2 separate regions of the Homo sapiens genome follow, and region 1 is linked to region 2. Evidence: fine-mapped expression QTL. A gene starts in region 2. The other region holds a variant in brackets. All regions are shown on one strand. Distances are between the middles of the regions.

Region 1 (2,921 bases), 21 kb before region 2:
GGGTGACTCAAATAATTTTTATTTTTACATAAAATCTTTCCGAAAAGAACTCTAATAATTTTGATGTGATACCACTCTAGAGAATAACTAATTAATATTTTTACTTAATCAATTTTTTATTTTTGAGATGGAGTCTTGCTCTGTCACCCAGGCTGCAGTGCAGTGCCACGATCTCGGCCCACTGCAACCTCTGCTTCCTGAGTTCAAGTGATTCTCCTGTCTCAGCCTCCCAAGTAGCTGAGATTACAGGTGCACGCCACCACACCTGGCTAAGTTTTGTATTTTTAGTAGAGATGGGTTTTTGCCATGTTGGCCAGGCTGGTCTCAAACTCCTGACCTCATGATCCGCCCACCTCAGGCTCCCAAAGTGCTGGGATTACAGGCTTGAGCCACCGTGCCCGGCCCAATCTTTTTCTCATATGCATACACATACACAGTCTTGGAGATCATTCCAAAAGGAAGGAAAAGAGACAGTCATAGTTCATAGTTTATTACAAATGCATATTATCCAACTCAGTAGAAATCCATGTACCCCAGAATGTACAGAAGGTATGCAATGTTCCAGAGTGTCATTGTCAGCTCTGGTTTTATATATATATTAAATATATACATATTTTGAGACAGGGTCTCGCTGTCACCCAGGCTGGAGTGCAGTGGCACAATCTCAGCTCACTGCAACCTCTGCCTCCCAGCCTCAAGAGATCCTCCCACCTCATCCTTCTGAGTAGCTGGGACTACATGCGCATGCCACCACACCCAGCTATTATTTTTATTTCTTTTTGTAGAGACAAGGGCTCACTATGTTTCTCAGGCTGGTCTTGAACTCCTGGTCTCAAGTGATCCTTCTGCCTTGGCCTCCCAAAGTGCTGGAATTATAGGCATGAGCCACTGAGCCTGGCCTGATTATCTGTTTTTTGAATAGTGACCCTAATGTGCTTTTCCAGTTCCAGTAACTTTTGATAAAATTTTTCAGCAGTGTCTTCATCTAGGTCCATCTGGAAAAGAAGCAAAAATAGAGATGTCTAGAAATGAAAAATAAGATGAATAGTATTTGTATAAAAAAAAGGCATTCAATATATGAAATAAAAAGAAAGGAGGCAGCAGGAAAGGGCCATGGTGGCAGACACGTGGAAGAAGCTGAGAGCCTGAAGACATACTAAATCTCAGTCTCAGTTCCAACACTCACCAAACCCACTGATGCTTCCCTTAAACAGCAAGACTGAAAGATCTGAGTTTTGCTATCTCCCCCAACTTTTATATGCCCAGTAACAGAAGACACCAACCAACTGGTTATC[A/G]AAGGACAAAACAGAAAAATCAAGAGTTTTGTGAGTTTTTAATGGCTACTCACTTCCTAATATCAATCTGGCTTAGTAAAAGAGCCCTGGTTTTAGCTGGGCTCACTGCCCTCTGGATATAAGACGATACTTCAGCCTCCATTGAAACAATGGGTGCCAGAGCCATGAGACTATGTTCTGGCTAGTGAGATGTAAATAATACCTGGAGTCTCTTCAAGAGAAATAAAGCATCCCTTTTTTCTTCCCTTCTTCCATACCACTCTCGAGCCACAAGCCTGAGGGCCATGCCCTAAAGATGGCCAGGTGGTGATTGCAAGGAACTTGAGTACCTGACAATTTGTGGACTTGCCATGGCAGCCTGAGACTGCCTCTCTCCTAAATGCTTTTACATGCAAGAAATTTAAGATTCTATCTAGTTTAATCTATAGTTATTTTACATTCTTGTGTTTCATGCAGAAAATCTCAACAGTATGTACAGGCAAACTTTCAGCCCTTTTAAATAGTGATATCCTTTCATCAAGCCAACACAGAGCCTAAACTTCAAGAACAGCCTCTTTGTTCACAAAATTGAAAGGCTAAAAATTAAATAAACTTTTGAACATTTTGAAAATAACATTTTTAAGGGCAGCCAGAGAGAAAGGTCGGGTTACCCACAAAGGGAAGCCCATCAGACTAACAGCGGATCTCTTGGCAGAAACTCTACAAGCCAGAAGAGAGTGGGGGCCGATATTCAACATTCTTAAAGAAAAGAATTTTCAATCCAGAATTTCATATCCAGCCAAACTTAGCTTCATAAGTGAAGGAGAAATAAAATCCTTTACAGACAAGCAAATGCTGAGAGATTTTGTCACCACCAGGCCTGCCCTACAAGAACTCCTGAAGGAAGCACTAAACATGGAAAGGAACAACCGGTACCAGCCACTGCAAAAACATGCCAAATTGTAAAGACCAGCGATGCTAGGAAGAAACTGCATCAACTAACAAACAAAATAACCAGCTAACATCATAATGACAGGATCAAATTCACACATAACAATATTAACCTTAAATGTAAATGGGCTAAATGATCCAACTAAAAGACACAGACTGGCAAATTGGATAAAGAGTCAAGACCCATCAGTGTGCTATATTCAGGAGACCCATTTCATGTGCAGAGAGACACATAGGCTCAAAATAAAGGGATGGAGGGAAATCTACCAAGCAAATGGAAAACAAAAAAAGGCAGGGGTTGCAATCCTAGTCTCTGATAAAACAGACTTTAAACCAACAAAGATCAAAGAGACAAAGAAGGCCATTACATAATGGTAAAGGGATCAATTCAACAAGAAGAACTAACTATCTAAATATATATGCACCCAGTACAGGAGCACCCAGATTCATAAAGCAAGTCCTTAGAGACCTACAAAGAGGCTTAGACTCCCATACAATAATAATGGGAGACTTTAACACCCCACTGTCCACATTAGACAGATCAACAAGACAGAAAGTTAACAAGGATATCCAGGAATTGAACTCAGCTCTGCACCAATCAGACCTAATAGACATCTACAGAACTCTCCACCCCAAATCCACAGAATATACATTCTTCTCAGCACCACACAGCACTTATTCCAAAATTGACCACAT
Region 2 (2,921 bases):
TTGTGTTTTTCTCATTTTGAAAAACTTCAATGACAAAATAACTGGACTGAAAACAAGAATTGTTCTTTAGTTTTTCTACTACTGGGCTTTATCCTGCCAGTGGTTTTCATTTTGTACCTATTATGTCACTCATGAAAATGATTTAATATATCACCAGTAAGGGCTCAAAAGAGCATCTTATTAGCTGTTTCCTATGTGCATTTTGACTTTGCTGTCTAGGCTCCTCAGGGGCAAGGGCTCTACCACCTACTGGTATCGTAAACACCATAAGGAGCACCAGAAATCTCTGATAAAGGAACAGATGAATCTTTCAGGATGAGGCATCAGTAACATGGCAGGATGTACAAATCCCTCTCAACAACTATGATTAAATAATAGAAAAAGAAAGAACTCAACATGATTAAGTAGAAGGTAGGAATACACTAAATATTAGATGAGTACACCACTTGGAAACAAAGAACTTCAAAACCAGCATTGTAAAACCGCATAGGAGTGGTGACAGCAGTCAGACCAGCCTGGCTGATAGCAATGAAAAGCTGGGTAATAAGTTCTCTTTCAAGACTTAAGCTGATTCCAGGCAAATATGTTAATAGTTAAAACCCAAAAAGAGCCTGGAACCATCAGTAATCTATTAGCACCAACAACAAAGCATCAAAAATATTTATTTGTCCTCACATGAGAACAGTAGGCATTTAATATACAATTGCACATGTCACAATATATGTAAAAGAAACAGACAAAATCAATTCTGACTTACTCAGTACCTTCCACATAAGAAGCACCAATCAACGGTTAAAGTCACTTGAGAGGGTATGCTAAAAAGTTGCCAAATGCAGACACCTACCAAGCTGGCTTAGTTAATACGCATGTGGTTAAATAATTGAAAGTGGATCAATCTTAAATGTTTAACATGTCCTCTGTCTTAATCATTTAAAAATGCCAAATGCAACTAGTAGAAAAATGGTTTGATTGGCTTCATCCTCCACACATTTTTCACAGAAGTGCAAATGACAGGTAAAACAAGCAACAGAAGAGGCTGAGAGACTAAACGAGCAACCCTGGAATTATTATGAGCTGGTTATTCTGCACCCCAACCATGCCTTCATAGGAAAAGATTAATTTTCTCTGGGTTTCTGAAGAGTATGTTAGCTCTCTAGCACTGAGCTAAATGAAACGGGATTGTTTTCTCTCCACCGTCCTAATGTTCATGGGTGTTCAAATTTGTAGGCAAAAGGCTTGTACAGACAAAACACCTGGAGTATAAGACATGATCACGTGGTCAGGAGCAAAATATTGGGCACTGACGATAAATACGAACAGTAGGCAAAGATGGAAAAGGGGCGGAGCCCGCCTGAGTACCCCATTGCCTTGATAACCTCAGGATCATCACTGCGACACTCATCACTTACTGATGCTCTAGTTTTCCTTTTCACTGTCATGTTTAATACAAAGCACCAGTTACTGAGCACCTCAAGAGGCCGACATGCCCCACACCTGCTGCAGACTCCGGGGAACCTAGGCAAAGCCAGGGGCGGGCGCTTCCGGGGTCCGTTCGTGGAGGGTCGCAGACCCCTGCTCTCTCGGACCCCTGATCCGCTGCCGCCTCTGCCAACCCAAAGGAGGCCTCACCTGCTAGCCCCGGTGATCAAAACCACCTTTCGCATCTTCGCGCACTCACACTTCCAAGCAGTGAAGCAAACACCGCCGCTGCTTTCGGAAGTCCTACGATTTCGGGCCGCCTCACCCGTCACCAATCAGAGTACGGCCACGCCCCGCCTCCCGTTGCGTCATCGAGTCTGAGCTGATCCCTCCAATCTCAGTCCGCCAACCGTTCCCTGCCCTCGGAGACGGCGTCGGGTGAGATAGGCCGAGGGGCGGAGCTGCGTGACGCAAAGCCCGGAGCCATTCCAGGCTCTTCTCGCTCCGCCTAGGCGCAGGTGTCTGTCACTGCTTCCTAGGGCTCAGCGGGCGCCTGATCTTTAATCCTGGTGGGGGCGTCACCCGGCCTAGCACTCAGGACAGGATCTGTGACACGCACTGGGTCTGTGCCCTGGCGCCTGAGATTGGCACTTCTTTGCAGGAAGGCCTCACGGTATTTGCACCAGTGCCCATTTTAGAGAAAAGGTTTGGGTCTAGGAGCCAAAGTTGGGCGATTATCATCTAATTTTCCACTCCTTTTTGGATGTACAGATCCAGGCATTGTGCCACTTCACAGCCCAACTTTTGATCCCAGACCTCCTCCTCTAAAGAAGCTTATTTGAGAAAATGAGCACTGATTTTATTAAGAACTTTATGTAGAATCAGACGTAAATTACCAGTATTCAAAACTTGGAATGTGGCGTGGAATCAGAATCTCAGAACTTCATTCTCCGAAGTACTGAGAATGTGCTGTAACCTTCTGTATCAGTGCATCTCAAACTGTGCTAAAGGACCTGTTTTTGTCTCCAAGCCATCCCAGATGGGTGCTTTTAGAAAATACAAAAAAATAAAGTGCTAGAAAAAGAAAAGCAAAAGGCATACAAAACACAAGCCCCGATATTTTATTATTAGATCCAAGACATATAAAAGTACTCTGCCAAAATGAGGCAGAATAGGGTTTGGAGGCAGGGTACTTAAGGCCACTTCGTGCTGACTTCCTAAAGCTCAATCAAGGAAAAACAGCAAGGGCTGGAAGTAGGGAATCTGAGACCAATTGGTGCTGGCTTCCCAAAGCTGGATCAAAAGGAAAACACCTGGGTCTGGGGGCCGAGAGCCTAGGGTCAATTAACACCAACTTCCTAAAGCTAAACCAGAAGGAAAAACCCCATCTCCCCACTCCCCAGTAGCAAAGGATCAAAGGCTACTCTCCCTACAACCTTCTGTTCTCAGACCAAACTGAGGGTTGGGCTGCTATTTTTCAAGGCCCAATAACGAGATGCAGA

The links. PIP is the estimated chance that this variant, and not a neighbour inherited with it, causes the effect.
Region 1: its variant is fine-mapped to the expression of HSD17B7 in whole blood (INTERVAL, PIP above 0.99).

The regions. Positions count from the first base shown.
Region 1 is chr1:162,810,372-162,813,292 of GRCh38, reverse strand. It overlaps HSD17B7 (hydroxysteroid 17-beta dehydrogenase 7), which reads right to left. Exons shown (of 9, transcript NM_016371.4): 9 at 470-995. The coding sequence ends at 873. Among named protein-coding and RNA genes, the nearest start is that of HSD17B7, 21 kb to the right of the region's middle. The variant A/G (reference allele first, on the strand shown) is at 1,296.
Region 2 is chr1:162,789,544-162,792,464 of GRCh38, reverse strand. HSD17B7 (hydroxysteroid 17-beta dehydrogenase 7) reads right to left here and starts at 1,763. Exons shown (of 9, transcript NM_016371.4): 1 at 1,630-1,763. The coding sequence starts at 1,664. RefSeq lists silencers at 179-379, 1,776-1,835.